3 separate regions of the Homo sapiens genome follow, and all the other regions are linked to region 1. Evidence: fine-mapped expression QTL. A gene starts in region 1. Each other region holds a variant in brackets. All regions are shown on one strand. Distances are between the middles of the regions.

What was found. PIP is the estimated chance that this variant, and not a neighbour inherited with it, causes the effect. A credible set is the group of variants that fine-mapping cannot tell apart.
Region 2: its variant is the best candidate, but not a certain one, in a credible set for the expression of GOPC in whole blood (INTERVAL, PIP 0.87).
Region 3: its variant is the best candidate, but not a certain one, in a credible set for the expression of GOPC in whole blood (INTERVAL, PIP 0.67).

Annotation. Positions count from the first base shown.
Region 1 is chr6:117,597,367-117,608,551 of GRCh38, reverse strand. It overlaps GOPC (golgi associated PDZ and coiled-coil motif containing), which reads left to right and starts at 6,041. Exons shown (of 9, transcript NM_020399.4): 1 at 6,041-6,548. The coding sequence starts at 6,264. It also overlaps the pseudogene NEPNP. RefSeq lists enhancers at 5,650-5,939, 6,070-6,159.
Region 2 is chr6:117,554,281-117,565,465 of GRCh38, reverse strand. GOPC (golgi associated PDZ and coiled-coil motif containing) reads left to right here. Exons shown (of 9, transcript NM_020399.4): 9 at 2,082-5,197. The coding sequence ends at 2,212. It also overlaps a transcript of DCBLD1 not described here. Among named protein-coding and RNA genes, the nearest start is that of GOPC, 43 kb to the left of the region's middle. RefSeq lists an enhancer at 7,139-7,188. The variant T/AT (reference allele first, on the strand shown) is at 3,578.
Region 3 is chr6:117,566,535-117,577,719 of GRCh38, reverse strand. It overlaps GOPC (golgi associated PDZ and coiled-coil motif containing), which reads left to right. Exons shown (of 9, transcript NM_020399.4): 3 at 249-272; 4 at 2,368-2,543; 5 at 4,088-4,253; 6 at 6,765-6,860; 7 at 7,984-8,148; 8 at 10,686-10,866. It also overlaps a transcript of DCBLD1 not described here. Among named protein-coding and RNA genes, the nearest start is that of GOPC, 30 kb to the left of the region's middle. The variant C/A (reference allele first, on the strand shown) is at 7,057.

The DNA of each region.
Region 1 (11,185 bases):
TTAACTTCTCTAAGCCTCATGTTTGTTCTTCTACAAGATAAAATGGGGGAAATAATTTCCACTTTAGAGAAAGGAATAGATGAAGCAAACTAAAGTTTATCAAGTTGATGGGCAAAAAGTAGGATCTCAACAAATGATAGTTGGCGTATCAGTTTAAGTTATGGATTGCAAGCAACAGAAACAAATTCTGGCCAATTAAAGCAGAAAAAGAATTACTGAAAGAAAATTGGGTAGCACAATGAAGTATAAGAATGCCTGGAGAATGTGAATTGGAAATGGCCAAGAATAAAGGAAGGCTGCATAGTCAGAATCACAAGCAAAATTGCAAAATTGCACCTCAGTTGAGTGAGGACACCATTCCTGCTGCCACTACAGAACACGAGTGCACCAGCCTCTACCACAAACCTGAATCTAGCACAACACCAACACTAGCATGGCTGCTGCTGAAACTGCTATCTTCACTCCCTCTCCAATCCCTACCAAAAGGAATGCTCCCAATCCTGCCTCACTATCTCCATGTTAAAAATTTCAGGTGGATAATTCTAGTTAGCTGAGTCTAGGTCACAGCCCTGTGCTCTACCTGTCACAGAGTCAGGAAAGTGATCATCTGACATTTTCAGCTTATTATGGAAGAAGAATTCTCTCTCTCACCAAGTAACATAAAATGGGAAATTCCCTAGAGGAAGGGAGCTCAAATATGGAGAGTATCCCACATGTAGTGACAAATTTTCACTATAGAAGTCTTTTCATCCTAACTCCCTCTGCTCACCATGGCCACAAAAGCCAAACAAATTCTGAGTGAGTTACAATCATCTGGGGACAAAACAAATACTATCTCCAGCAATTGTTGTGATAGAGCTTTTTGTGTAATAGTTTCACTACACTTTTCTGACTTTTAGTTTCTTTTTCTTTTTCCTTTTTTTTTTCTTTTTTTTGAGACGGAGTTTCGCTCTCATTGCCCAGGCTGGAGTGCAATGGTGCAATCTCGGCTCCCTGCAACCTCTGCCTCCCAGGTTCAAGTGATTCTCATGCCTCAGCCTCCTGAGTAGCTGGGATTACAGGTGAGTGCCACCACGCCTGGCTCACTTTTGTATTTTTAGTAGAGACGGGGTTTCACCACGTTGCCTAGGGTGGTCTCGAACTCCTGACCTCAGGTGATCTGCCTGCCTCGACCTCCCAAAGTGCTGGGATTACAGGCATGAGCCATGGCACCCAGCTGAAATTTCTAATTAGATAACTTATACTTTTCAGTCAAAACTCGAAAAAATAATTATTGTTGAAGGGTATTTGGAATACAACTGTTTCGGAGGCCCTTAGTAGACTAATTTATAAAAAAAAAAACAGAAGGTGATGAAGGAAAGTCTATGTTTGATCCATACAGTCTGACACTTGAGAAATAAACAGTGACTTCACAGTGGACAAAAGAAGAAGAAAACATGAGTAGGAAACTCTGATACTACTGTTGATAAATGGTGGTTTCAGACAAGGCTGAAGCAAACCTGGAGCTGTGGGAAGTGGTAGATGAAGAATGTACATCGGGGAAAAGGGGAAAAGCAGTTATAGTCTGTCTTTGATAGTGTAAAATTTATTATGTTTTGGTTTTAGGTTGAATATACTATACAAAACATAGTATCTAGTAAATTTTAACAATGGAATAAGCAAAAGAATCCTTGAAGCCTAAATTATAATGGATTTATTAGTCAAATAAGCCAGATCATTGTAAAATAAAACTTTAGGTTTGGAAAAGAAAGACTAATATGTAATTTATAGATATCCTAATCTCTGAGGCAATATAAAAATATATTAATATTTAGCTATGCTCTCTAGCATGTATCACAAGTATGTCTTGAAAAGTGAAGTGACTGTTAGTTTCCTAGGTAGAATGATCGAATACCTTAATTATTGAAGTTATCACACAAATAGTTATAGCATTCCTACCACATTCTAGGTCCTGTGTTAGGACCTGGGATACAAAGATAAGTAAGATACAGTTATTGTTGCCAAGGAACTCACAGTCTAACAAGCTCCAAAATAATATGATAAATGCGGTAAAAGATATTTACAGGAAACTAATTGGGGATGGAGCCCATAGCATCATATGAGGAGAAAGAAGGAAGGCTTCCTGGAAGAGGAGGTGTCTGAGCTAATTCTAAATCACTGTACCAAAATTCTCAAGTTTTAAAAACAAGAGAGCAAACAGTTGTCCTGTTTTTTGTTTGTTTTTGAGACATGATCTCATTATGTTGCCCAGGAGGGTCTCAAACTCCTAGATTCAAGAAATCCTCCCACCTCAGCCTCTCAAGTAGTTGTGACTACAGGTGCACACCGCCACACCCAGATCCCTTTGTTTATATAAGGGAAATAATCAGGAGAATAAGGCTAATAAATCCCTTTGGATTCCTAAACTTACTTCTTTAGCATATGTATCTGAAATTTTCAAAACTGTTGGTAATATGAATAATAAATTCAATAAATATAAATAATATGTATGAATACAACACTCCAAACCTTTCCTACATTGATTAAATAAAATGCTAGTGGATTTTTACTTTCTTCATTCACCATACATACAACTTGTTATAGCCACTAACAGCATATACTTAACCCCTTCTCTTGGTAGGGTTACTGGAAACTAAATGAAACACGTGAAGTTAGGTACAGGGCCTGGAACACAGTAGAGTTCAATAAGTGATAATCTCCCTCTCCAGTCCAAGGTGGGTCTTATACACCCTTTTATTACAGTGCCCTTGCAATCAATGATGCTCCATAAATATTTAAACTATACACTGACCCCGCAGTTAATTACCAGTACCTATCAAAGAAACCCTTAGCATCATCTCTCTTTCCCCAATTTCCTCAGTCTCCAACCAATTTATTTTTAGTAATGCCTTGTGACAAAACTCTGTAGGGATAAGTTCCTAAAACAAGAGTGTCACATTTAAGTTATATTTTTTAAAAATCACATAAGCATGATTCATAAAACAGTTATTGGAAGCTTCTGCCAATCCAACTGCAAATAGAAGTATCAAGACTTTAATATCTGTGGAAAAACAAATCGCTCAAGTATTGACATTACATGCAATCTCCAATTCCAGAGTAGGTAAGGATAAGGCAGTAAGTGTAGATAGAGTACACCGACAACAGATGGCAGCACTTGAACATCAAGCCCCGATGATAAGCCCTCCTTTTCACATCCATGTTCTGCTGTGACTTGCAGATTTGCATAACCTCAATCCAGGTGGGCAAAAGATTATGTCTACATACTACAGTAATGAGAAGGGACAACATGACATGAAACTCGTCTGAGACACAGATGAGTCTATGACTTGTTGAAGTTGTAAAGGTAATAGATACGAAGCTGGGTTCTGCAATCTCGAAAATGGGGGTACCCACAAACCATTAGAGCACTGGAAACATATAAACACTTAAAATGTCACTCAGCTGCACCCACACAATGTAGCTGGAAGTTGATTTTTTAAAGAAATGAAATTTATACTCAAGTGTGGTTCATATAAATTAGAGTTACAAGTAATAGAAAATGAGTTATTACAATTTTTGGTAATGGTTCTTATATGTTAATAGATTTGTATATGGTTTCTAACTAGGAAGAAATTAAAAAGAACTTTTGGAACTTACTTGCTAGTTTATTATACTGCTAACTTTTACAAGAAGAAATAGATTCCTTCATTCTTCTGTATTACATGGTTAACAGCAACAACTTAGGAGAAAAAGACACCTAGATTGATATACTACCTCAATCTCTTTCTAGTTTTGTGACCTTACCAAGACACTTAAGCTGTCTGTGACTTTAGCTGTTAAAAAGTGATTACTGGGTGTGGTGGCTCACACCTGTAATCCCAGCACTTTTGGAGGCCTAAGCAGGAGGATTGTTTGAGTCCAGGAGTTCCAGACCAGCCTGGTCAACAAAGTGAGGCTGCAGTGAGCTGTGATCGTGCCACTGCACTGCAGCATGGGCGACAGAGCAAGATCCTGTCTCAACAACAACAATAAAAGACGTGATCATACCTACCTCATAGGATTTTGTAAGGATCAAAGAATTAAAGAAAATAGCATAATGCCTAACACATAGTAAGGACTCAATAATTGAAAGCTATTATAATTGTGGTTCGATGTATTCTCCCCCTGCCCTGCTAATTTTAAATTATTTACTTCGCGTTCCTGAAAATGCATTGCTAACTGTATTATGTGTAGATAAAGTGGCTGGGAGCTTGATAGCTGTAGCAATGTTTTTGCAAATATTGTAGATGAAAATAAAGCTAATTTTGGAAGGGAATGGGGAAAGATGTAAATTTTAGTTTTACATTATTTATTGTGTACTAAAACCTGTATGAAGGTCCCTACTTAAGTCTAAGGTCAGGATCTCATGATCCATTTTGATTAGCTAAGTTTGCTCAAGCCAAAGGACTTTATTGCTTCATGCTAACCAGTCTGCCATGCAGTACAAAGACTGCAATAATAAAATTGTGATTTCTTGCTCCTCAGTTGCCTTGCATCAGCGAAGGGCACACAATGCAGGCTTTGGGTTGTGATTAACCGTAAGGGTCTGCCCCAAGAACAGATAACAGCAGACTGCACTCAGCTAAATATGCTTCTAGGTAATGCAGGAGTTTCCACCAGCCTACTCTAATCACACAGGTTTCTCTTTCCCTTTCTAGGACTGTCTACCCTTGAACTGGAAGTAGGCAGAATGTAAAGAGAGGAGTTGCTGGATACTTTTAAAGGCACTGAAAAATTCAAGTTAAAGTTATAGTTGAGGGGTAGTAGCCTCACTAGCCTATCTTGAGTAAGGGTCATGTCTCATTCATTTTTGTGTCTTCAATGTCGCAACAGAGCTCTGCATTCAATATATTTGTAAATATATGAATTCACAATTTTGATTTTCTGAAATGTCACGTGTGAGGACACTACCAGTTTTCAAATAAATACACCTTTTAAAGTACAGTTATGTGCCAAATAACAAGGCTTCAGCAATGAATGGATCGCATAAACTATGGTGATCCTATAAGAGTATATGACTGTACCTTTTCTATGTTTAGATATGTTTAAGTACACAAATAGTTACCACTGTGTTATAATCGCCTACCGTATCCAGAATGGCAACATGCTGTACAGGTTTACAGCCTAAGAGCAATAGGCTACATCATATAGCCTGGGTGTGTAGTAGGCTATACTATCTAGGTTTGTGTTTAAATACACTCTAGGATGTTCCCTAAGGGATGATTAACCTAAGGACACATTCCTAAGAACATATCCCCATCTTAAGTGAAGCACTACTGTAGTTGCTTTTGAAATGTGTGACCTATGGTGTATTAAGAGGAATACCGTGTGCCAAGAAGTGACGCTAAGCGTTTTACCTTACAACTGAGTTAAGTAAAATTTGGAAACTTGGTTTCGAGGTTAATACATGAAAGGCGACACAGGTAGTATGTGACAGAGGGTAAGAATTGAATCCAGGTCTACCTGACTCTTAATCACAAGACAAAAAGTCTTCTATTAATTCCGCAAAATCTGGTCAGCCGCTTCAATGCGCAGCTTTAGGCAGTCCACACCTGGAATTTGGGGTCTGGTTTACCAAGAACAGCCAGTGTGTACACCCACTCCATCCTATCCAGGAACTGGAATCGAGAAGGTAAAAACGTGGCTATTGCGCATGCTCACACCGCCCTTCCTTGCTCTCCCCTCCCTGACCCTAGATGCCACCGCAGCAACTTTCTGGGAGGATTTTGGAACGGCTCCCGCCAACTGTTAAGTCAAACCGGCGGAAATCCTTCCTTTCTGCGACGTGGACACCTTTCTCATCCTCGGGCCTTTCCAACCAGGGTGCAGAAACCACGCGCCTCCGTTTCTCAGGGATTCAAGCCGTAGTTTGCCAGTTGTTAATATGGCCGCTGACAGGCCGCTCCCAAGCTGAGGCCTTTCATAGGCCAAGATCGCATCCTGTCCCCGCCTATTTTGTCCCTCGTGGCTGCGTCCGCCCAGCTCTTCGCTACGCATGCGCAGCGGGGGCAGGCTGGGAGGTGGGACTGACTGAGTCTTCCGTGTGTCGCCGCCGTTGCCGCCTCAGCTTCAGCCTCGTTACTCCTGCGGTTCTGTGACTGTGCTGCTGGCGTTAACGGCGCGAGGTGAAGGGAGGTGACGGAGTGTGCCCGCGCGCGCGGGGGTCCCCTCAGTCCCAGCAGTTCCCTTCGTGCGCGGGGGGCGGCGAGGGTCTTCAGCAGTCGGGAGAGGCCCTTGACGGCGCCATGTCGGCGGGCGGTCCATGCCCAGCAGCAGCCGGAGGGGGCCCAGGGGGCGCCTCCTGCTCCGTGGGGGCCCCTGGCGGGGTATCCATGTTCCGGTGGCTGGAGGTGCTGGAGAAGGAGTTCGACAAAGCTTTTGTGGATGTGGATCTGCTCCTGGGAGAGATCGATCCAGACCAAGCGGACATCACTTATGAGGGGCGACAGAAGATGACCAGCCTGAGCTCCTGCTTTGCACAGCTTTGCCACAAAGCCCAGTCTGTGTCTCAAATCAACCACAAGCTGGAGGTGAGCCGTGGGTGCTGGCGGCTATGGCATCCAACCCCAGGCTGCCCGGTGGCGTCAGATGCCATTTAACGCTCCAGTGAAACGACCCTAGAAAACTGCCCACCGGGGCTTCAAATGTGATGGGAGAGTGCATGTCTGAGGAGTGAGGTGAGGGTGGGGGACAAAAAGGGCCCTAGACCGACGTGTGAGTTCCCGGGGTACTGTCGTCCACCTTCCTAGTATCTCTCTGAGGAGGAAACTAATTACATACACCAGCCTCCATTGCACATGTTACATTAACAAACCTAACAAAGATTCTCTGTCATGAAAATACCGTAGGCCACCTTTTGACAACTGAGTTTTGCAGATCTGCTTTCACATTGATAAACCGAATTTGTATATGTTAAGACAGATACAGCACTGATTATTTTCATTTTAATTATTCCAGGTCAGCGCCTATGATTGCATACAGAGACATGCATAAACTATTTAGGGGAATCTGATCAAAGCTCTTAGGAAAATTTCGTGGTGCATAACGATAGTATCACTGTCTCGGTTTACATCCATAGTTGGTTGTTAAATTACAGGCAGATACCTCCAGAGAGCTCCCTGCAATTATTGAAATTACTTCTGACCTTGAGTTTTTATATGCTTGTACATTACTGTGTAATTTTCCAAAGTCTGGATTTATTTTTGAGAGAGTGTAAAGAATCATTTGCTTTAATCTCTGATCCTGGGTGTGGGTGAGGGTGGAGTGGCTGTGGTTCAAAAAAACAAAAATATCATATTGTGCAGAAAATTTAAAAAGGACATTATTAAAATATTTAGAAATCAAGATAGATTAACATTATTGCATAAAGAGTACTTTCTAACTAGGCAATTTAAGAGAATGGGTCTTTCTTTTCAAAAAGTGTAATAGATAAAAATGGGATAATCAGTGATGTGCAAAACTCTGAACATGCTTTCCTAAGAAATCATCATTACTCGTTGTCATTGACAGTGCCCATTATATCTATATCAATATGAATGTCAGTTAAACATCCTCTCCTTGCCTAGTGGTCAGCATTCTTTCTCTCCTATTAGCCATGAAATATGTGGCATAATTAATCTTTGATTAACATAGATTTACATATCCAAGAATTGTGGCTCTTCTCCACTGCGAGAACTGTTAATTTCTTCTATCCTTTTTGAAAAGATTAGAAAGTGCTAATATGAAGGTAATCACTTCTTACTGTAGGTAAATGAAAACATCTCTTGATTTCTTTATTGGTAGTAATTTCCACAAGAAAGCTATTTTTCTCAGATAGTGAAATTGCATTTAATGTTTTCTAGAAATAGTACTTTAACTTTATTTCATCTTATTTTATCTTATTATATTTTTTTCAAAAAAGAGATGGAGTGCTTTGTTGCCCAGTTTGGTCTTGAATTCCTGGCCTCAGGTGATCCTCCTGCCTTGGCCTCCCAAAGTGCTTTGATTACAGACATGAGCTACTGTGCCTGGCCATTAGTTCTCTAGCTTTAAACAACAAAGATCAAGAGTAGCCTTTACCACATGGTATAATTCGAATGTGTCCCCCAAATTTCGTGTATGGGAAACTTAATCCTCAATGTGACAGTATTGAATCTCCAATGTGGGGCCTTTAAGAGGAGACTGGATCATGAGTACTCTGTTCTTATGAATGGATTAATCCACTTATAGATTGATTTGTTATTGGATAAATGGATGAATGAGTTATCATAGGAGTGTAGAACTGGTGGTTTATAAGAAGAGGAAGAAAGACCTGAGTAAGCATGTTAGCATGCTCAGCCTCCTTGCCATGTGACACCCTATGCTGCCTCCATACTCTGCACAGATCCCCTGCCAGCAAGAAGGCTCTCGACTTCTCGAGATCTGGCCCCTCGACCTTGGACTTCTCTGTCTCCATAACTGTAAGAAATACATTCCTTTTCTTTATAAATTACCTAGTTTCTGGTATTCTGTTATAAGAAACAGAAAGTGGACTAAAACATCACACGAGAAATTTCATATCATTTACAACTGCAGTATCAACTGGGCATTAACAACTTTTTAAAAATGAAACAATATTTTATTTATTTTTAAAATGACCTAAGGAAACTTTAAACAGGGATTTGATGTCAGATATAAAAATTGAAATTGGGAGGAAGGATAATTTTCTCAGTAGGAGGCTGTGCTCCATTTTTTTTGTCTTTAAATATTTTAGATGAGTATTCAGAATTGTAATAAATTATGCATGTTCTTTTTTCAGAAATTAAAATCACACATTCTGACTTTATGTCCTGGTTTAGGAGGTTGCATTGTTTCTCAAAATAGGAAATGCTAGCATATCACAATGTGAGCATATTTTTTATGCTTGAAACTGTTGATTTAAAGATCATAGGAAAATGGGGAGGGGAAAAATCCTAATGATTTTGGTTTGTTTGTTCATTTGTTTGTGTTTTTTCAGTTACAGTCAACTTGTTTGTCTTTGATGTTAATCTGTACACGTTTAGCAGCTTCTGCCGTTTTTATGGAATCAATTGTGTATTGCTGTGGAAAGAAGTTCATTGTCAGCAGTGCCTTTCAAAGTAGACTTGCTGCTGTTCCATCTACAGAATTTCAGTGGTTGCTCCATATATTGTTTGAAAGCTTGAAACAATTTCCATATTTTCTTGCCCTTTTTTACTTTTTAGGAAAAGGATTGAATTTGTTCTATTGTTTTAATTATATGGACATTAAGACATATTTGAAACCACTTATGGTTTAATATGACAAACGTGACATTCAGTGGTTTCAGAGGTTAATACCTTTAATCATATTACTGTAATAAAATATTTTTATATAATGAAGAAACAGATACCTCCAATTTGGGTAATTTATAATGTAGTTAACATTAAACACTATATTTATTATTAAAATATTAAATTTTGCTGCAAAAAAATCATAGGTTACTTTTTTACTTGAATAGGCTATTAGGGCTATTCTTTTTTATTTTTAATTGACATAATAGTCGCATCTTTTTAGGGGGCACAGTGTGGTATTTGGATACACATAATAATGATGAAATTAGGGTAATTAGCATATCTGTCACCTCAAACATTATTCATGTTAGAAACAATTCAAAACCTGCTCTTCTAGCTGTTTGAAAATATACATTAAGCTACTATTAACTGTAATCATCTTATGGTGCTATAGAATACTAGAACTTTTTCCTCTTATTTAGCCATAATTTTGTTACCCCGGGCTGTGGACCAGTACTGGTCCGTGGCTTCTTAGGAACTGGCTGAACAGCAGGAGGTGAGCAGTGGGCAAGAGAGCATTACAGCCTGACCTCTGGCTCCTGTCAAATCAGTGGTGGCACTAGATTCTCATATAGATTCTCATAGTAGCACAAATCCTGTTCCTGTTGTGAACTGCACATGCGAGGTATCTGGGTTGCCAGCTTCTTGTGAGAGTCTAATGTCTTTTGTTGAAACCATCCCCACGCTGTCCTGTGGAAAAATTGTCTTCCACAAAACCAGTCCCTGATGCCAAAAACATTGGTGACCGCTGTGTTAACCAACATCTTCCTACCCGCCTCACCCTTCCCAACTTAACAGTAACCACTGTTGTATTCTCTACTTCTATGAGGTCAACTTTTTTTTTTCTTTTTTTGAGACAGGGCCTCACTCTGTTACCCAGGCTGGAGTGCAGTGGTGCAATCATAGCTCACTGTGGCCTCCAACTCCCAGCTCAGTTGATCCCTCTGCTTCAGCCTCCCAAGTAGCTTGGACTACAGGCATGAGCTACTATACTCAGCTAATTTTTCTATTTTATTTTTTTTTTTTTTTAGTAGAGATGGGGTTTTACTATGTTGCTTAGGCTGGTCTTGAACTCATGGGCTCAAGAGATCCTCCTGCCTCAACCTCTCGAAATGCTGGTATTACAGGTATGGGCCACCATGCCTGGTAAATCAATTTTTTTAGCTTCTACATTTGAGTGAGAACATGCATTATGTATCTTTCTGTGCCTTGCTTATTTTTACTTAATGTCCTCCAAGCTCATCCATGTGGTCTTCAATGCAGGATTTCATTCTTTTTTATGGCTAAGTAGTATTCCTTTGTGTATATATACCACTTTTTTTTTTTTAATCTTTTCATCTGTTGTGGAAATATAGATTGCTTCCGTATCTTGGCTATTGTGAATAGTGTTGCAATAAACATGGGAGTGCACATATTGTTCAAGATACTGATTTCCTTTTTAGGGGGCATATATCCCTAGTGTATATGTTCTATTTTTAGTTTTTTGAGAACATAGATTACATCTTAAAATTAAATACAAATGATATCCATGTGACTGCTTTTTGCCATAGCAATATTTGGGAAGAGTCATATCTGAGGAGAATGGAATAGCAGAGAATATCAGTGTATTTTGAGGTGGTGCCATTTCAAATTGCTCACATCTCTCACACTTTCCACATGCTTGTGAGTTTTTGCTGTCATGAGCCACTTGATCATGGCTATGCTAGAATCATAGGCATTGATTGGAATAGTAGTGGCACTGTGGAAGAAAAAAGAGAAACTTTTTATCTGAAGAATGTGCCCCCCTTCACCACTTCTATTCAATGTAGTACTAGAAGTCCTAGCCAGAGCAATCAGACAAGAGAAAGAAATAAAGGACA
Region 2 (11,185 bases), 43 kb after region 1:
AGGCAAATGGATTTTAATATAACAGAGTGTGAAAAGTTCACTGATAAGGTTTCAAATTCCACATTGTCAAATTTTTGTATAATATCAGAGAACAATACTGACAGTTATCTGAAAAGGCTGTTAAAATACTCTTCCATTTAGCAACTACATATCTGTGTGAGGCTGAACTTTCTTCATATACTTGTAATAGATTGAATGGAAGCAGATATATGAAAATACAGCTATCATCTACAAAGCCATTGAAGAGATTTGTAAAATTGTAAAATAATGCTACTCTTCTAACTAGAATTTTTTTGTTTGGAACATAGAGTTATTTGTCATTAGACAAATGTTATTTATATTAACCTTCTGGATTTATTGTCATTTTTAACAAAGAAATGAATTTTTTTTTAGATTTTTCAATTTTACCTACTAATATGGGAAACATCAGTAGCTATAATCCACATAAACAGAAGCTTCTTGGAGTCCTCAATGCTTAGTATAAAGGCCTCCTGAGACCAAAATGTTGAACTCCTGGCATGGAGTTTTATGGTGAACTGATAAACTGTTGCACTTTTGATAAACTTGTGTGTTGTAAACTGTCTGCACAAAGATAGCAGTAGCAGTTACTGTTTTCACTGTGCATCTTGAGCAAAACTATTGTGGCAGTATGTCAAAACCTTAATTGTTGGGCTGCTCTCCATATGGTTTCATTGTATTTCACACTTGCTGTTTTCTGTCGGGATTAGAAAGCCTGTCTCTTCCTTTTTTTTGTAACTGAGGCTAGAAGTCTTCTCTGTCACATATGCAAATTGCAGACACTTAAAATGTGACTCAACTAAAAATTTGTGTGTATATATCTTTTAACTGACTCACTTAAAAAAATGTATCTATTGGTTATTGTTTCACACGTCTATACTTTATAGATATATATATCACCTAAATAGGTGATATAGTCAACACTTATTTATTTATAAGCCTATTATTTATTTTATAGATGATCAGAATTCGTTTTAAGTTTTAGCTAGACATCATCTTGCCAACAAATTACATTTTAAGCAATTAACTAGTATATGCCTCAGTTAACTGAAGTTAATGTAATATGAAAGCAACAATGAAAAATAAAAATATAATTCACAGTTCAGTAGATATTTATATAAGTAGAATTGACTGAATTTTACAATTATATGTATTACTTCTAAGTCTTACAGACAGCTTGATGGTGGCTCATGCCTGTAATTCAAGCACTTTGGGAGGCCAAGGCAGGAGGATCGCTTGAGGCCAGGAGTTACCAACCTGGGCAACATAGTGAACCCTGTCTCTTCAAAAAAATTTTTAAAATATAGCTGGACATGGTGGCACATGCTTGTAGCTCCAGCTACTCAGGAGGCTGAGGTGGAAGGATTGCTTGAGCCTAGGAGGTCAAGGCAGCAGTGAGCCGTAATCATGCCACTGCAATCCAGCCTGGGCAATAGAGTGAGACCCTGTCTCAGAAAAAAAAAAGAAAAAAAAAAAAGGAAAGGAAAACTTGATAGGAAACTTAATACAATTTTTACATAAGCCCAATATAGTATTTTTAAATCTGTACAATATTTGATACCTGCCATAAGAGGGAAGAATTCCCCTGTTAGGAATTACTGATTTGATTAATATAAGGCATTATTTTTGCCTCAGATTACTAATGTTAATTACTTGGGCATTCCTTTGTTTTTCACTCAATAAACTTATACAACTAACTTTTTTTTTTTTTTTAATTTTTTTAATCGAGACAGAGTTTCACTCTGTCACCCAGGCTAGAGTGCGGTGGTACGATCTCAGCTCACTGCAACCTCCACTTCCTGGCTTCAAGTGATTCTCCTTCCTCAGTCTCCCAAATAGCTGGGATTACAGGCATGTGCCACCATGCCCGGCGAATTTTTGTATTTTTAATAGAGACGGGGTTTCACCACATTGTCCAGGCTGGTCTCGAACCCCTAACCTCAGGTTATCCACCCACCTTGGCCTCTCAAAGTGCTGGGATTACAGGTATGAGCCACTGCACCTGACCAAAACCAACTTTTTAAACCAGAAAGTGTCTGCTTTTTTTTTCTCCTTTCTTTCAGGATTTAATAAGAAGGCAGTAACTGACACACATGAAAATGGAGACCTGGGCACTGCAAGTGAAACTCCGCTAGATGACGGTGCTTCAAAATTAGATGATCTGCACACTCTGTATCATAAAAAATCTTATTAAATTGACCATATCTCCAGACAAGATTGTTAATCAGACTATTCTGAATTTGGGGCACTGGGGAAGATGGTGACAAAGACTACAAAATCAGGGGAGGCTGTTTGTTGCCTAAATGAAAGGCGGGTACCTCAGGGCTTCATGTGAACAATTCTCAATGCATAAAACACCCTGTTTTCTGTGGTAGACCATAATTAGCTATTGCATGTAAAGCAATTTTGATTTTCTTGAACTTGTAAGCACCAAAGCATGTGTTTCCCAAAGGGGTATTACTGGGCTCTTAAGTACCAAATGAAACCCTACTGTTTTACTTGGTTCCTTTTCCCTTTAGTAGGAGGACAGTGCTAACTGGAATTTTATAAGGAGTACCCTTTAAAATACAGAGAGTAAGTGAATTCATATTTTATATTCTAGAATGTTAACTGTGGTATTTCAGAAGACAGAGCTTGACTCAATGAATTGTAGAAATATAGGCTTGACTTAATTTTTGTAACTGAAAGGCTTTAGACTTAAAAAAATTTATTGTGCATCCTAAAATCTAAACCAATTATTAATGATCATTTATTGTAATGAGTTTGCATTTCAGCTTTATTCAATGCAGTACAAAATAGTTTTCTTTAAGCAGTCTTTTATCAATCAATGCTGCACTAGAAATAGATTCTCAAAAGTTACTAAACATTTTACTTTTTTTGTTTTTTAAAAGAAATGCAGATGAGTGTAAAACATCTGTTCTCAATTATGTTGATCTGTGTGCGCAGTACTGGAGCATTTACCCATTCATGTTGAGCCTCAAATGCTTGTTTTCTGGGGTCCACAAAAGACAGTTTTATACATTTTGAGTTGTTCATAAAGTTTGTCTTGTGATAGTCCTGGCACTTAAAGACAAATTTTTCTGGTAGTAAAAGTTCAGATTTATTACTATGTCATGAAACACAGTACATTCAAATCAAACGGCAGTTTTCTTTCTAAGTAAATGATTTCCAGTCATCTAAAAGGTGGGCAAGATGAGATAAAGACATTTTGATACAGTAATTGTTTTGGTTGGGTTTTCATGTCAGTTTATGTTTGACTAAAGCTCTCTTCATATGCAGGTTTATAAATTTGTTAGGTCTGTTGTCCCATGATTAAACATGGAGTGCCTCCTCTCTGATTTAATATTCTGCAGGTCATTGTAACCTGCTAGGCAAAGTCACAACATTGCATTAAAGAGGTGATAGCTTTGCTAATATCACTGTTTTAAAGGACGTACAGTTAAAGGAATATTAAGTGGGAGAAAGCCTACAAGGCTTTTAGAATATTATCAGTATCTTCATTTCTGGTATTCAGATGTTATGTGATAAAACACATTTTTTTTGGCTTTCCCAGATACAC[T/AT]ATATATTTGTTCAAGGGTAAATCTATAAAATGTATATACTTTATTTTGTGGTTTTGCTATTTATAAATTTAATGTTTTAACTGTTGCTCATTTATGGTTTGTTTTGGGTGGTGGTGTTCATCTGTATATCACCATGTTAATTTGTAATGGAAGTGCACTTCGTAGTGTATATTGTTACTGACATTAAAATACTTTATAGCATTGTCTCTGAGCAAAAGCTAGTATTTAATTGTACAAATGAATAAGCAAGTTACATGTTATTGTTTGCTCTTGACAGGGTAGGCCTCTTAAAAGAAAAAAAACAACTTGTTTTTTCTTTATGAATCCCCTATGCCAAACACATACCTTCCATGCATGACATGAGATCTGCAAACTGGATTTTAGCCACCGTATTTATTTAGTCAAAAAAATTGTCCATTGTAGCAGACCCGAAAACCTTTTTGCTGTGACATGAAACCATGTTATTCTTATCTTCTTAAAACACAGCCTGGGATGGAATGGCCATGGCATTTTTTTCAGAGAACATCCTTTATCTGCTATGACTGAATCCTTAGGAAATGTAAGCTATAACCCTTTGATTTTCAAGAACTACCGAATAAGTGTATGAAGAGGTGGTTTTTTAAAACTTCAAGTTGGAATTTTTATGAGGTCACTGTGTAATTTGAAGAATTGTGTGAGATTGTCATGATATAAATTCCTTTTAAGGACTGATAAATAGAATGAAAAGTTTCCAGGTAGTTTAAAACTCCACAGGTCAGTTTCCTTTTCATTCCTGCTTCACTGTGGTTTATAAGCCTACGGGAGAGCACCGTTGCTCAGATGCTACTGTGAGCTTCCTGTCCGGTGTTAGAAAGTAACTAGTTAAAAGTTCATTTTAGAATGTATGGTTTTTGGGGATGAACTAAGAATTAGTTATTAGTTCCAAAGGACTGAGAACCAATTTTAATATTTTCACATTTATAGGAAAGAAATTCATATGTCCCTGAAACTTCTAGGACAAAACCAAACAAGTAAGGAGGGAACTGTTGCAAAGCCATTTCATCGAGAAGGGGACAGAAGGAGAAATACACACATGTATACACAAACAGAATGGTTGAGAAAACGTTTTAATAAAATGTGAGGGTTGTATGTGTGCGTGTATATATTTACACTTAACCTCTAAAATTCTCTTCTACAGTATCTCTGTTATGAATATGATGGAAAAGCAACATTTTGGTGGTGAGACTATTGTTAAAATAAATTTGAGAAAGACGAAAATTTTGTGAGTCTTGATAATTACAAGTCAACAGCTATCGAAAGTTAGCACAGCTTGTCTGTGGTGCTGTTTTTTTCCCCACTGCAGTGGACTTATGCTGTTTTCATGTTTAGAAACAAAAAGGTTTCATGTGATTCATGTGTAAGATGCACAGTATTTGACATCCTGATTATGTAATCCCTATTCCATCTATCCAGTCTTACACTTATGGTTGGCCTCAAATCTATTGCATTTATGATAATGTATTATATCTAGTTGAGTTTAATATTTTTTTATTAGCCTGTAAATAAAGATGGCATCTTCTACATTAAAATGATATTGATCTCATTTTTTTAAATAAACATTTTGTTTCCTTGACGTTAAATATTTTGGCTTGTTATTTATTTCTAGTAGTTCTATTATTTGTACCAACATGTCATAAAGTCTGTGCAAAGGACTTGGCTTAATTTTGTGTTATAAATATTGCCAGCTGTTGTTATCTATGAGGAAAACATTGATGAAAGTTAGAAAATCAATCCTGTTTTTAAGATACTATTTAAAAGGGTATTCTTCCATTTTGACATCTAAGTATATATGATTTAGAAGTTCCTAAGTTATATGTAAAATAATTTTTGGAAAATACTTGTAAATGAATTACTTGAGTTATGAACATTTAGAAATGTTATGAACATTAGAAATACATTTTTGTCACTGACTAACCTTGATTTAGTGCTAATACATATATGCTTTCCGTGTGTTGATTTAAGCTCCCAATTCACCAAGTGATTTGAAAAGAAGTCTTTTCCCCAGAATACAACCCCATAGGATATTGGTCAATTTATGAATTTTTTTTTGGTCAGTTTATGAAATTTTAAAGAGAACTTGTATTTTCATTGTTAATCAGTATTTTATTTTAGGTGGTTTTATAACTAACCTTAAAGAAACACTTTAAAAGTATTGCAAATTACCGTGCACTGTTGGTGCTGAATATTTGTTCAATAATGAACCTTTTTCAGGTGTGATTTGAGAGCTATAATCACCACGGCAGCAGCCATGAGAATGCATCTGTCAGTTCTCGTGCAGGAGGGAGCATAGCTTACTGAAGGTCCAGCTGCTGTGGTCTGAAATCCATCCCTGTGTACATGGTGAGGCTATGCTCCTCCATGCTGCTGCCAGTCAGTGACTGATTATGACAGGGATATTATATGATGACTCCTCAACTTTAGCTGGAGCACTCCACGATGGTCTTGCCAAACTCCCTTAGGATTACATTGTAGTCCAAGTTGCTTTCACCCAACCTTCCTTCCTCCTTTCATTCACCTTGGGTCTTAACTCCATTGTGATCTCATTGCCTTCCAGCCTCCAATCAACTCCAGCTTCCTACCTATTTTTCCTCACTGGCATTGCCGTTAATAAATCTGTTGCACAGCAGATCCCTTTTTGGTGTTGGCGTCTGCTTCTTAGAGAGGCTAGATTAACACAAGTGACCATGAGTGAGATTTGAGGAAACAGGTAATAAGATGGGCATTAGGAACCCACCCAAAGGGTAAAGACAGTGACATCTGGTTGGTGAGTATAGTTTATCTAGTCGTTGGCACAAAATCATGGCTCAGTGGCTATTTCACAAATGGTGTGCAGAAAAGAGTTAACAGAACAGGCCTGAACCTGTTGTCTTTAGGTCTGCTTGCAAGGTTGGACCTTGGCTAGCGTCCAGCAATTTGGATATCAGGAGTATTCCCATTATCCCCTTGCTGGTAAGTGCGGTTTACTGTGCCTGAAGTGTTTGTACAAACAGTAGGATTTTTGTTGAACACTTACTTTCCTCTGGGAATCTAGAATTTTGGTACATGCTAGGCAGAGGGTACCTACACTGACTTCCCTAAAACCTTGACTCCTAGGTTCAGTCAGGCAAGCTTCCTAGGTGGACAACACTTGATGTATTGTTACACATTATTGCTAGAGGAATTAAGCATGTCCTGTGTGACTCCATTGGGAAATGAATCTTGGAGCTTGTACCTGATTTTCTTGGGACTGTGCCCATATGCCTTTTCCCTTTCCTCATTTTGCTTTATATTCTCTGTAATAAATCATAATTGTGAATAAAGCTTTGCTTAGTCTGATGAGTCCTAGCAAACCACTCAACTTGGGGAGAGTTTTGGAGACTTGGGACTGAAATTGGAAAACATTTTATTTAAATTGGAAAAAATTATTAAATTGGAAAAAATCCAGCTTATGGAGAGGGGAACTCTCCAGGAGGGTCAGTGATGCAGACATTTGAAAAATGTGGGAGAACAACATCTACAAGAATAGCAGAGTTGGCCGGTTACAGCAGGATTGTATTAATGACCTACAGAAATGGATGGAGGGGGGCAGCTCCCAAGGAGGCCTTACCTCCTACAATGGAGGGATTGAAACAGCTGAGCTTCAGGCTGAACACCTAAGTGTTAAGAGTTGCTGAGTTTCAGACACTTGAATGTTCAGCGAAACCTCTTCTATTTTGTGAAAGTCAAGGCCCTGGTGAGGAAAACCTAGAACCATGGGGAGATCTGGATGGCTGCACCTGAGAGACTTTGCAATCTCTACTGGACTGTTGGTCTTAAGAAGAAGCCCACGCTTCTCTAATAAGACCTTGTACCTTGTCTATGCTCCAAGATGTTACAGAGGCTGCTACTAACCACATCCCTAAGGCAATACCTGCCCCTACCTAGTCTGCTGCCAGGCCTGTAACTAGGGCTAAATCCTAGTAAAGCCAGGATGGGAGATGTGCTGGGCCTGATAAAGGAGAAAAGAAACTACACAAAAAGTGTAAGAATTAGCTAGCACATTCTGGCAAAAACCAAAGGAGTACTCCTAGAACTGAATTTTATATTTTTTATTTTTATTTTTTTTGAGACGGAGTTTCACTCTTGTTGCCCAGGCTGGAGTGCAATGGTGCAATCTTGGCTCACTGCAACTTCCATCTCCTGGGTTTAAGTGATTCCTCTGCCTCAGCCTCACAAGTAGCTGGGATTACAGGTGCGTGCCACCACGCCTGGCTAATTTTTGTATTTTTAGTAGAGACGGGGTTTCACCATGTTGGCCAGGCTGGTCTTGAACTTTCTGACCTCAGGTGATCCATCCGCCTCCCAAAGTGCTGGGATTAGACTGGCCACCGTGCCCAGTCTGGAATTGACTTTTGAGAGTGCTTGATCAGGGTGTAAACTTATTAAAAGAAAGAACTGAAATTAGAAAACATTTTATTTAAATTGGAAAAAATCCAGCAATATGTTGTTTAAAAGGAACATACCTAAAACATAAGGACATAAAAAATTTGAAAGTGAAAGGAGAAAGAATATACACTGGGCATATTTTCTCCAAAAGAACATGGATACAGTTATATTTTTTAAAAACAGACTTTAAGAAAAAAACCATTAGGGATAAAGGTTACTTAAATTCTTAAAGAACCAATTTACTACAATGTTAAATCTATCATCATAGTGGGAGATTGCAACAAAACTTTCAGGCAAATTAGGAAAGAAGGAAGATTTGAACAACAAGCTTGATTTAAAGTTTTAAGAGGGCATTTGGTTGTAAAAGAAATACCTCTGGCGTCTAAGTAAGAAGATAAAAAGTGAGCAAAAAACAGAGATTTTTCAAAAGAAAACATACAAGTGGATGATAAACATGAAAAAAAAAGTTCAACATCACTAATCAGAGAAATGCAAATTAAAACCACAATGAGATATCATCTTACACCAATCAGAATGGCCATTATTAAAAAGTCAAGAAACAGATGTTGGGGAGGCTACAGAGTAAAGGGAGCACTTACACCGTTGGTGGGAATGTAAATTAGTACAACCTTTACGGAAAACAGTATAGAGATTTCTCAAAGAACTAAAAATAGAACTACCATTTGATCCAGCAACCCCACTACTGGGCATATACCCAAAGAAAGAAAGAAATTATATTGAAAAGATACTGGCACTCGTATGTTTATCACAGCACTATTCACAATAGCAAAGATATGTATGGAATCAACCTAAGTGTCCATCAATGGATGACTGGATAAAGAAAATGTGGTAAATATATACCATTGAATACTATTCAGCCATGAAAAAAGGAATGAAATCATGTCTTGCAGCAACATGGATGGAACTGAAGACCATTATCTTAAGTGAACTAACTCAGAAACAAAGTTTACTACCACATGTTCTCACTTATAAGTGGGAGCTAAATAAAGGGTACACATGGACATATATAGAGTGGAATAATAGACGTTGGAGACTACAGAAGATAGGAAGGTGGGAGGTGGGTGAGGGTTGAAAAATTACCTATTGGGTATAATGTTCAGTATTCAGGTGATGGTTACACTAAAAGCCCAAACTCCACCACTACGCAATATATGCATGTACAAAACCTGCACTTCTACCCCCTAAACCTATAAAGATAAAAATATATTTTAAAAAAGGAAGATAGGTAATGGACTATAACAAGGAAAATTAGATAAAATATAGGCCGACACTAAAACTTGGAGTCTATGCGTTGGAAAGGTAGAATTTGCAATTTGGTAAATTGCCAGCAGGGGGCAGCAGATTCCAGATGCATTATTAATTTTACTTTTATTAGCGGTGTAAGGCTTTTTGAAACTCATCAAATAAAATACTCCTGTGAAGATCAATAAATTGAAGGCTGATTTTTCCAGGGTCACACAGCTAGTTAAGTGTCTGAGCCAAGACTCAAATCCCTCTCTTAATTCTACTTTAATAGGCCACAAAGAAGGAAAGGGGAAATATAGATAAAATTGTCAGCTTTCAGTCCTCCTATTCCAACAATTATTTTTATTTTTTCCATGCTTGCCAACTGCAGTAGAATTTTTCTAAAGTTTTCTTAAAAGGTGCACGGTTTGATGGACCCTTGGCTTGATACAGTTTTGATTTCTAAAAATGATGATTGTGCTGGGTTTGAATTTCACAAGAAACTGTTTGGCTGTAGTGGAGTGACTATAGAATGAGAGAACTCCTAGAGTTACATAGTAGAATTCTAGATCGTCAAGACTATAGCATTCCCCTGCCCCCACCAAATACGGAATAAGTTATTTCTTGCTTGTGTGCATACTGTCCCCATATTCTTTAGGAAGCAATACTGCAACAAGGATATTTGTGTCCTTTTGTGACATTTGAGGATGTGTCATGCTCACTAGGTGCCCTCTACTGTCATGTTCACCATGGTTGAGGGCATTTTTAACCTCTGCCTAAGGCAGTAACAAATGGGTTGTTGGCTTCTGAAACAGGAGAACTACAAAAAAAAACCCTGATTTTTCAGAGGAAAAAGGCAAACTGCTGACTAAACTAGTCATGAAAAAAGGGAGTAAATGCAAATATACAAAACAAGAAATAAGAGAGAAATACCCATAAAAGAGAAAACTAAAAGGATAATAATGGACTACTTTGTTCAATTCTATAGGAATAAATTTGAAAACTTTTCTAGGAAAATGTAATTTACCAAAACTGTTCCCAAGGAAGTTTTAAAATCTAAACAAACCAATTTCCATAGGAAAAATTGAAGGAATTGTCAAAGTGCTCTCCCCACAAATTACCAAAATACATGATTTCACAGGGCAATGCTACTAAACGTTCAAACAACAGCTAATTCTAATGCCTAGCAAGAGAACCAAAAAAGGGAAGAAAAATTCTAAATTGTTTCTGTCAAGCTAATAATATCTGATCAAGATTGCCACAAAGAAAGAAAAGCCCTGATTCACAAAAGATTTTTTTTTTTTTTTTGCAACTGAGTCTCGCTCTGTTGCCAGGCTGGAGTGCAGTGACTCGATCTCGGCTCACTGCAACCTCCGCCTCCCAGGTTCAAGCGATTCTCCTGCCTCAGCCTGCCGAGTAGCTGGGACTACAGGCACAAGCCACCACTCCCGGCCAATTTTTATATTTTTAGTAGAGACAGGGTTTCACCATGTTGGCCAGGACAGTCTCGATCTCTTGACCTCATGATCCGCCCGCCTCAGCCTCCCAAAGTGCTGGGATTACAGGCATGAGCCACTGCACCTGGCCCACAAATGAATATTAATGTAAAAATCCTAAGTAAAATCCTATCCATGCAAATTTAATACAGTAATGGATTCATATCTATAACCAGATGTTTAACATTGGGACATCTAATTATGTAATTAATCATCTGACTGGCTCTAGGGAGGAGTCCTATGGAGGAAAATCATATTTTCCATAGATGCTGAAAAGACTTTGCTCAAAATTAAGCACATTCCTTGTGAGGGGGAAAAAAAGGAATAAATAGATGCTTTCTTAACATAATAAAGTTTACCTCAACATAATAAATCTATCTCTGCCTAAAAGCCAGCATCATGCTAAGGTGGGAGCTACTAGAA
Region 3 (11,185 bases), 31 kb after region 1:
GAATTTGAAAGAGTATGATGAAAAGAACACTGTACCAGTTATGTTGACTAATTTTGATAAAACAAAAAGTTTTAATCTAATGCTATTACAGTTACTATTGTTTATAGATTGCAAATATATTTGTTCTAATGAACTTTACCCAAATGATATCCAACATGTGGGATTTTTCCTTATAATGACTATACCACTAAATAAAATCATTTGTTTGATCTTTTTCTAATTATAAAACTTTTTTCTTATATCTGAAGTCTGGCCCCTCTGTGGAGGAGCTGGTAAGTATATTGTTTCTGTTTTGCTTTAATATGTCACGCTGAAGTGTTCTTAGTGTTTTATTTGCATATTATATGTTGTCACTCATTGTATTTGAAAATAGCATTAATAATGGCAATTTTTTAATGTTCCAGTACCTGAAAAGTTCAGTGGATGGCCCATTGCTCTTTTCTCACTGCATGTTGTTAAACATTTTTCTTTTGTTAGTGATTTATAGCCATTATTTGCAGAGCCTGTCAATTTTTGACAATTTTTGAGCCTTGTAGCTTGCTCATACCTCTACTTCAAAGAGCAATTGGTTTTCCCACTTCAGGGTATTGAAGATATATCAAGCAGGCTTAGTTTTTAACCCCCTTAAGTTTCTGTTTGAAATTATTTCCAGAAAAGAATGTGCATGTTGGTTTCTTCTTCATCTACTGCGTTACAACTTTTCAAGAGTCTTGAGAATAATCGTATGGCCTTTGAAACAATTGAATTTTGAAATGCTTTAGCAGAAGTTATTTTAGAAAATAACAATACATTTTTAATATTTTTCTCATTACCCCAACCTAATCAAGTTCCAATTTGTCTTATGGCTTTACCTCTTTTGAAGATATAATCTTTGGTATCTAAATGTAAAATGAACATCTTGGGTGTTACCTAGTAACAAACAGGTTAACTAAGAACCAAGAAAATTTTTTTCTGGAAATCTAGAAATGGTTAACTTCAGTTTCCTTCATCTTATTCTTGCTTACCTCTGTTAATTTCGGGCCCAAGAGTTTGTCAGATTCATTAGGGATTTGAATCATTAAAACCCCAGTGAGTGGTAGCTTAGTATGTCTCCCACATTTCATTAATGTAGTATAAATAGCTCATTAAAGTAATTGAAAGTAGGTAATCATCAACATAAAGTTTATTTAGCCCATAAGCCAAAGAAATCTTGGTCTAGGAGTGCTCTTTCAAAAGTTGCATCAACTTTAACATGTCATAAGAAAGATTTTTGTTTGTATCTCCAAACTGGTTTCTTTTGAAACAGATACTTGCCCTTTTAGGACATAGGTTCTGAAATAAGAGTTTAATAATTCCAAAATTATGTTAAAAGGAGGATTCTAGATTGAGTTTTTCGAATCCTTTAAAACCAGTATCTAGAAATTACGTTCTAATCTTTTTTTTCCCAGAAATTGAGTCTGCTAATCTTTCATCTGTTTGTCATATATATAACAAATATTTTTAATCAAAGAAGTGATAAATATATCTAGCATTTAGTAGTTGTCATTAATTTTAGCTTGTATGTGTGTGTGTATATGTAAATATATTTTTTTTAGGATTATCGTATTTATTGACTAGTATTCAAATATATCTATTTTGATGTTGTTCAAAACAGTAGACCAAAGGAGGCACATTAAATTAGTACCAAAATATATTCCATGAATTGCTGAAAATTTGCTTAAATTTGTTTCTTAGCTTCTCAATATCCAGAATAAAAAGGGAAATAATTATGTAAAATAATCAGTGCCCATACAATAGAAACAATACTATTCATCATTTCCTCAAGAGAAACAATTTCTCTGGTGCTAAGGTAGGTTTTTATTTACGTCCTCACAAAAGGGACAAAGGGGGTATAGGGAATAATGTCTTCCACATATTGTGAACAAATGTAACCATGTTTTCATAGGATTTGTGGATTCTGTAAAAGCAGTTCTGCTCAGGATAAATGCAAGTTTTCAGTGTTTACGTGGTTTTTTTGATCTATAAATAACAGTTAAAATGTCTATTGGGGTCCTTATTTAACTCTCAAAAGGGTTTTAGAAGTAAATAGCAGATTCAACTATCCATTGAAGCCACTTTTACTAATATGTGATAACATGAGCTTAGAGTAGACTACTTTTCTTACTATACTCCATATCAGGGTAACCCATGGCGTGCAATTATTTTATCTAGAAGTAGTTCCAAGATGTTATGGTACTAGTTCAAAAGAACTACATCCAGATCTTTGTGTTCCATTTTATAGAGATGATACATTGTTGAACTGTAGGCTTTTGTGCATTTTCAGGAACATGGTCTAGTGCTAAAGAGTTTTTATTTTCATTAAATTATATGCTTTTAAAAATTACATAGGAAAGAGAGCTTGAGGCAAACAAAAAAGAAAAAATGAAAGAAGCACAACTTGAAGCTGAAGTGAAATTGTTGAGAAAAGAGAATGAAGCCCTTCGTAGACATATAGCTGTTCTCCAGGCTGAAGTATATGGGGCGAGACTAGCTGCCAAGTACTTGGATAAGGAACTGGCAGGAAGGTGTGTAAAAAATGGGTATTATTGTACTCTTAAGTGACAAATTGGATATTTAATGAGGTTGACTCTTACTTCTTTCTTTTTTTATTTTTTATTTTTTTGAGATGGAGTCTTGCTCTGTTGCCCAGGCTGGAGTGCAGTGGCATGATCTCTGCTCACTGCAACCTCTGCCTCCTGGGTTCAAGCGATTCTCCTACCTCAGCCTCCTGAGTAGCTGGGATTACAGGTGCCTGCCACCACGGCCAGCTAAATTTTGTATTTTTAGTAGAGATGGGGTTTCACCATGTTGGCCAGGCTGGTCTCAAACTCCTGACCTTGTGATCCATCCACCTTGGCCTCCCAAAGTGCTGGGATTACAGGTGTGAGCCACCGCACCTGGCCTACTCTTTTTTCTTATGGTAAATGAAGCATTAATCTTTTTCCTCAGAATTATTTTACAGTTGGTTTTAACTTACTGTTGTTAAATTAATACTGACAGCATTATGTATCGCAGATCTAGTTATCCATACTAAATATGTTTAGTTTACACACACAAACACTGATAGTATCTTACTGTGAAATGCTAACAACTCTGTAGAGCAGCACTTTTCAACTATTTTGTGCCTTGAGACCAGTACAGCCGATATTCACATGCATAGCAGAACTTCCATAAGGAATTCTTTTTATGATCACTGAAACCCAGTCTTTCTTGCCCTTCAAAAAAACGTGTTGGTATTTAGTTAATGACAATGATTTTATCATAATCATACACAGAATTCTGCTGTATTTATTAAGTAAATTATTAACAAACTTTGGTGACTTATTAGTACTAAATCATTTTGTGCATATTCTTTTAATGTCACATTAAAAACATGGAACAAAGAAAAAATAATTTATATCATCTTGAAGTACAAATTTTCTAGTAACTTTTTTTTTTTTTTAAATTTTGTGAGATGGGGTCTCACTCTGTCGCTCAGGATGGAGTGCAGTGGTGCAACGTTGGCTCACTGCAGCGTCCACCTTTCAGGCTCAAGTGATCCTCCCACCTCAGCCTTCCAAGTAGCTGAGACCACAGGCATGCCACCATGCCTGGTTAATTGTTAAGGTTTTGCCTTGTTGCCCTGGCTGGTTCTAGTAACTTTTAACCACATTTAAAGTAATCATTTTGTGAAAAGAAACTCTAATTAGAAGAAATATTTTTGTCCATTTATCTCATCTAAAAGCTAACATTTAATAGTATCTGAGTTCAGTGACTTTGCATGCAAGACATAGATTGACATTAATCTCATAAATTTTTTTTTAGATTTATTTGAATTAAGTATATGACTAAAGGAGTTCACATTAATTCCTTTAAAAATTTTTTTTACTGGTTTTTCCCTTGAGGATACCTGTTCTTTTCAGAGTTTTCATATTTTTTTTATATCTGAGAGACATCAAGAAGTTCGTGAGTATTAGTTTTATCACTAATTTGAGATTCATGCAAAAGCTACTTATGTTCACTAATTTTCCTGAATTCTCACTGTAGTGAATATAATGAAAAATCAATGTACTCTTTTCCCAATATGAAGGGTCCAACAGATACAATTGCTAGGACGAGATATGAAGGGACCTGCTCATGATAAGCTTTGGAACCAATTAGAAGCTGAAATACATTTGCATCGTCACAAAACTGTGATCCGAGCCTGCAGAGGACGTAATGACTTGAAACGACCAATGCAAGCACCACCAGGCCATGTATGTTTGCTTTGCTGCTGCTTCCCACCCAGCCTCTTCTTTCTTTCTTTAATCACAGTTGCTTTCCATTCTTTCCTTTATTCTAGTATTGTTTGAAACCTTTATTTAAAAGTGAAAATGGGATTCAACTTATTCAAAGTAGATGAAGTTTCAACACCCATAGAAATTTTAGTAGCTCTTCACAGACTTACTAATGCCCTGAGAGTGCTGCAGACAGTGAGCCATTGTTAGCAAATGCATATTGCTATAATGTTGGATCATATTTCCAGTTTTTCCTGGATCATGATTGGGCATGCTTGAATTTGTTTTAATCTTAGCTTAGAGTGTGTGGTCATATTGATAATTTGGCAGATATTTTGGGGTAGTTCTTTAAGGGAACTTTTAGTAACTGAATCCAAATGTAGATTCTGAACTAACATTTACACCTGTTTGGTCTTGGATTAAGATAGAATTTGAGATCTGTAGCCAGTTGTCTGCTTCTGTAGCCACCATTATATAAAAGCTTCTATCTGGATAAATCTTTATTGAATTTTATCATAACAGCTGCTTGATAATATAGACCTTAATATATGAAAGCATGTCTCCCAAGGGTTCACATATCTTAGTACCAGATAATGTATGGCCTTAAATAGTAAAATAGTTTGTTGGCTCTGCAAAGATTTTTGTAAGAAGAATTGGTATGTAAATAGAGTTGGTGGAAGAGAAGTGGGGATAGCGATAAGCACTTATGCCATTGTTTTCTAGGGCACTGGTGGTTCCCATTAACTTCTAGGTCCAGTAGATTTGGGAAATGGAGCGGTTAGGAGGAAGACAAAGTAGTTTGTATCAGATGTGTCTGAGTGATAAAAGCATGCTTGTTAAATTAGCTAAATATGAGGTTGGGGTTTTAGGTAGTGGCTGGATTATAGAAATTATTTTATACTAAATAGAGGAATTTTAACTTTAACCTGATAATCATGGAAGTTTTAAATAAAATGGCAGACTTCATAAAATTTACATTTTTTAATAGTTATTTTGGTATAGTGAAGAGGACCAAGTTGGAGTCAAGGAGATATATTAGAAAGATACTATGGTCATCCAAGGAGAAAGTGATGAGGTCAGGAGAAGTGGCATTTGAGAAGAAGGATAGATTTGAGAGGATTATAATCAGGAGGGCTTGATTGGTGACTAACTGCTTTTGGTTAAATAGTGAAAAAGAAGAGTCTGGGCTTTTAGTTTGAGCAACTGAGTGAGATCTGGCATTCACTGGGAAGGGAAATAGAAGAAAAGGAAGGATTTGGGGAAAAGATGATGAGATCAGTTTTAGACAAGTAGTGTTTGAGGTGACAATGGGGTATCCAAGATACATCCAACTGGACATATGACTCTGGATTTCAGAAGAGAAATCTGTTTTGAAGAAATATTAGGGAAACTATCCTTCTATTATACTTGAAACCTTGGAACTCATTAAGCCTGTTCCAAGTATATATGTATATATAAAGTATATATGTAGTAAAAAGAATAGGAGGCCAAGGATAGAAACTTATGGAGTGGGAGAAGGAAAAGGATCACTAAAGGAAGGAGCCTGGGATGGAGCTGTCAGATACAGGCCATCTAGGAAAGTAGTGTAATAAAAACTAACAGAGAGAGTGGGTTTCAAGGAGGGGTTGATGAACAGTATCAACTTTCTGCAAGTTTGAAGTAGGATAGTGACAAAAAGTGTTAATTGTGTGTAACAATATTGATTACTGGTGACCACAGAAAAGAAAATTCCAGTTGTGCATGTAGGGGCAAAACTCTAATTACAGAGACCAGAGGACTGAATGTGAGTGGCAAGGAAGTAGATATGATGAGGATGAACTTCGTGTAGAGGTTAAGGAAAGGGGGAGGATGGTAGTTGCTAAGGAAGATAGTGAAGGATTGAAAGGTTTTTTGTTTTGTTTTGCATTTGCACATGATCAGTATTTTAAAACTGGAAGAGGCTTGTGATTCATTTATCTGCTGAGTAGGAAAACAGCTTAGTAGAGACAGAAAGAGTAAGGGTACCAGAGAAAAGATTATTAGTGGATCAAGGCCCTTTATTTAAGAGGTAGACTCCAGAGCACCAAGGAATGTATAAGTAATTAATGGTCCAATTGGAAATTTGTTTTTCAACTCTACAACTCAGCTAAAATGAATGTATATCTTAAAGATATCCAGTGAAGATAGACACTTTTATTTTTTGAGGATATTTGTTCCTCAATTAATTCCTGGAAATCATTTCTTTTATAATGCCCTACAATTTAAAAAGAGATGTATCAATATTTTAAACATTATTGGCAAAAGGGTGAGAATATCATCTATAAATTTTGCATCAACAGAATAGCTATTTTCATTTTTCCATTTTATCTGTTACTTTCTTAACCCTATACTGTTTATCCATTCCAGGAAGTTAATACAGATTTCTAAAAGCAAGTTATATAGTATGAGTTTACTCTATTTGGTATGCTATTTAAATGATACTACTTTTTCTTCTTTTTTCCTCCCAATAAGGATCAAGATTCCCTAAAGAAAAGCCAAGGTGTTGGTCCAATTAGAAAAGTTCTCCTCCTTAAGGAAGATCATGAAGGCCTTGGCATTTCAATTACAGTAAGAAGTAGTACTTCCAGTATCATTTTCTACAGTTATCTAGTATAATCATGCTCCTTTGTTGGACATCACTGGGGAACAGAATATTCTGGATATATTTTTTAAATAACTAAAATTTATCCCCATGGGGATAAATGTTTGCTTTTGTGTAAATATTTTTTTAAGAAATAAATATTCCTAGCAACTATTAAGTGTA[C/A]CTTTAGTAAGCATAGTTTAACATTTTTATTATGATTCACTTAATAGTTCTGTGCCATATACTGTGATGCCTCTAGGAGCCCTTGGGAATAGACGTGGCTGTTTTCTTCTATGTTAAATGGCTTCAGATTGTATTGTTCTCTCTCGGAGTACGTGTATCTTTCTCTTGCCTCATTTATTAGCTGTCAGATTTCACTGGCTCTTGGGTCCAAATGTTATATATTCTTTTTTTTAAATTCGATGCCTTTAGGAGTCATTTTGTTGTCATCTCAGTGCTTTAATGAATAAGGTGGCTTTAATTTTCATTTGGTAATACTTAGGCACTGAGCAAGATCATTTGTTTTTTTAGTATTGCTTAATGTAGAAATGTTTCTTATAATAAAAAGCTCATCTAATCTATATTTCTTGAATACTTACCTTTTTTTTTTTTATGTGCTGCCTTCAAAGAGCATACATTTTAGCAGGACAAATAAGACACACACACACACCCCTACACACACGCAACAATGATATAAGCTAGAGAGTGATAGGTACCAAATACTGCATTTTTTCAATTCTACATTGCATATATTTTCATATTTTAACTTCTCTGAAATTGAAATTTATCTTATAATCTTAAAATTATTTTTGTGGCACCTAAAATAATTGGTCTTGTCATTCGTAGTGATTTAGACTTGATAAAATGTAATGGTGCTATGGAGTACTAACACATAAGTTTTTTTTAATTTAAGAATTTAGCCAATTTCTGTTCAATACTCTGATAATTTTTACCATTACTTAAGTAGCAAATAAAATTTTACCCAGCATTTATAGAGACAGCATAGGTGTTTAATGAAATATATTTTTAAGAAAATATTTTATCTCTAGATTAATCGGTAACTGTACCTTACAAAGAGTACTTTAATTTACTGCCCTTTGTTGTTGTTAGGGTGGGAAAGAACATGGTGTTCCAATCCTCATCTCTGAGATCCATCCGGGGCAACCTGCTGATAGATGCGGAGGGCTGCACGTTGGGGATGCTATTTTGGCAGTCAACGGAGTTAACCTAAGGGACACAAAGCATAAAGAAGCTGTAACTATTCTTTCTCAGCAGGTAAATTCCCTTCATGTAATTAGAACTGGATCTATCAATTGGTTATGAATCTATTGAACACTGTATACTTCCCTACGAAGTTTCTAAAGTAGTAAAGTGTTTACACATAGTTCTTGTTTCCTTTGATTTAATGCTTTTATAGCTGACATTCAGTCAGATTTACTGAAAATGGACCATTCCATTTTGTTTACTTCATAACTTTGAGCAAGTTACTTAAGTCCTCTGTCCCTCAGTGTCCTCACCTGTGTGGGAGGGATTGAAAGAAAGCTGTGAGGATTAAGTATGTTAATACATATAAAGTACTCAGAACAGGACCTGAGACTGAAAAAACAACATCCTTAATGCCTAGAACACTATATATAAGGTATTACAGAAAAGACAGTGCTAGAAGTAGATTGATTTTAGTCATGGAATATTAAAATTGAAATCACACATAGAAACTATCTAGCCCAACTCTCTTAAAATGAGTAAACTAAAGTTCTTAGCGATGAAAGGATTTACTCAAAGTTGCCAAGCAAATAAATTATAGAATTGAGATTCATACTCAGGAGTCATATTTGTCATACAGTTGTACTTAAAATGTTGTTTTATTTTATTTCTTTCAAGAATAGAGTTGAGGGAATTAGAGGCATTGGTAGTACATTGAGATGTTTCTTGGATTATCAGTGTGGTATGCCTCTGTAGAATTGCATCTCAGAGTTGAAAGTGAATATTGTTCATTGGTTCAATTCTATATGATGCATAAATCTTTGCAACATCACTACTTCAATAATTACATTACAGGGAAGACTTGCTGATATCAACCAGTCCATTCCATTGTAATACAGTACTGATTTTTAGAAAGCTTTTTCTCATATTAAGCCTGAAATCTGTGTCTCCATGACAGCTACTCACAGATCTAATTCTGTCATCTAAAACTTTGCTGAAGACCACTGCATCATCTGTCTCTTTCTGCAAAATGGTATTTTTAAAGCATTAGCTGACAAGAGAGATCTAAGAATGCTACGCTATTCTCTTAAGTTAGTGTTTTATCAATCCATCTTGACTGTCATCCAGTAGCAAAAGAGTGGGATAACTGGTGAAGGAGCTATCAATGGGCAGCCATAAGTTTTAAGGAAATGCTAACTAAGCACATATTAAAATTCTGAGGTATAACCTTAAACTGCTGGGAAAGAAGAGCACCAAAGAGACTAACTTAGTGAGTAGCAGTCAAAAATGCCGTGTTTTCTTTTGAGCAAAGGCAAGCCATAGTTTTCAGAATTGCCAACACCACACTTATATGTAGTGGTTGGAGTCTCTTATTAAATGACAATTATAGCTTGGAAATTTTTCTTTTAACATAAAACGATCTGTAACATTTTTTTCTTTTTTGGAGCCAGGATCTCACTTTGTCACCCAGGCTGGAGTGCAGTGGCACAATTACGGACCACTGCAGCCTCAACCTCCCAGGCTCAAACAGATCCTCCGACCTCAGCCCCCTGAGTAGCTAAGACTACAGATGCCTGCCACCATGGCCAGCTAATTTTTTTTTTTTTTTTTTTTTTTGTAGAGATGGGTTTTGCCATGTTGCCCAGGCTGGTCTAGAATTCCTGAGCTCAAGCGATCCACCTGCCTCAGCCTCCCAAAGTGCTGGGATTACAGGTGTAAGCCACTGTGCCTGGCATGATCTGTAACTTTTTACTTGAATGTTTCATTGTTAAAGAATGACAGTACAAATATTACACAGTTAGTCTAGCATAATATAAAGATTAAGGACTTCAGAGTCAAACTTTTGTTTTTCTTTATTCTTGTTCATTATGTAGGGAAAGTTATCTGCTTTCTGCAGGACTCACTCAGCTTTCTCGTTCATGTAAAAGAGACTATAATAGGATTATTCTGGGGATTGAAGGCTATAATTTATAGTAAATATATAAATATAGTAATTACTATTAGTACGAGACAGAATACCTTGATTAACACTATGTCTGTGTCTGGTACTCAGTGTAAGTTCTTACTCAAGACCTATTGAATAAGAAACAAAAAATCATTTTGTAGGAGTTTCTTGAATTAGTTAAGAAAAGATTTATATGATGTCCTTATGGCAGTGTACAAAAATCATTTTCTAGGGGTTTCTTGAATTAGTTAAGGAAAGGTTTGTATGATATCCTTATTTAATATCTGACTATTTAGATGTATTTGCTGAATTGCTGTGTGCAGTACAAAGTAGCAAATAACTTTAAAACTGAATACTTGTTCCAAAATTCTATAAATTTAATAATTAAGCATCCTCTTAAATTTTAGATCTATTAGCAAAAAGACTATGGTCAGTAGAAAGAGCTACTATAATGTTTAAAGGAACTGTAGAGAGGATTCACGAGGCTGATCAGACATGATGGCCTCACTACCTCTTTAGATTCTAGAATTTTATTATTTATTTTCTGGAAATCAGCTATCTCTTAGATCTCTCTACCCCTAAGCCTTCCCACAAAGAATTTGGAAATCCTTTTTAAATTACAATTACAATAACTTGACTTTCTCATTTTCATTTCCTGTTTTAGAGAGGAGAGATTGAATTTGAAGTAGTTTATGTGGCTCCTGAAGTGGATTCTGATGATGAAAACGTAGAGTATGAAGATGAGAGTGGACATCGTTACCGTTTGTACCTTGATGAGTTAGAAGGAGGTGGTAACCCTGGTGCTAGTTGCAAAGACACAAGTGGGGAAATCAAAGTATTACAAGGTAAAAATCACTCTAAAAATTATTATTAACATATTCATTATTATTAAATGTTTAAAATGTGAAGGCCTCAGAATTTCTTCAGTAAAACTGTTTTGTGAGGAAATCAAAGGAATGAAGAGCTTTCCCTTGTTTATTGTTTTATTGTATACTATGCTAACAGTTTATTTACCATATATGTTCTTCTATATTCATCTTGGACTGTTAAGACAAGTACATTACCAGTTACTCTACTGCAAGTGATCCTTGAAAAATAAATAAAATTTTTTCTAGACTCTGAAACAAAGACCAATATACTATTTTGAGTAGATCTATCTTGTAG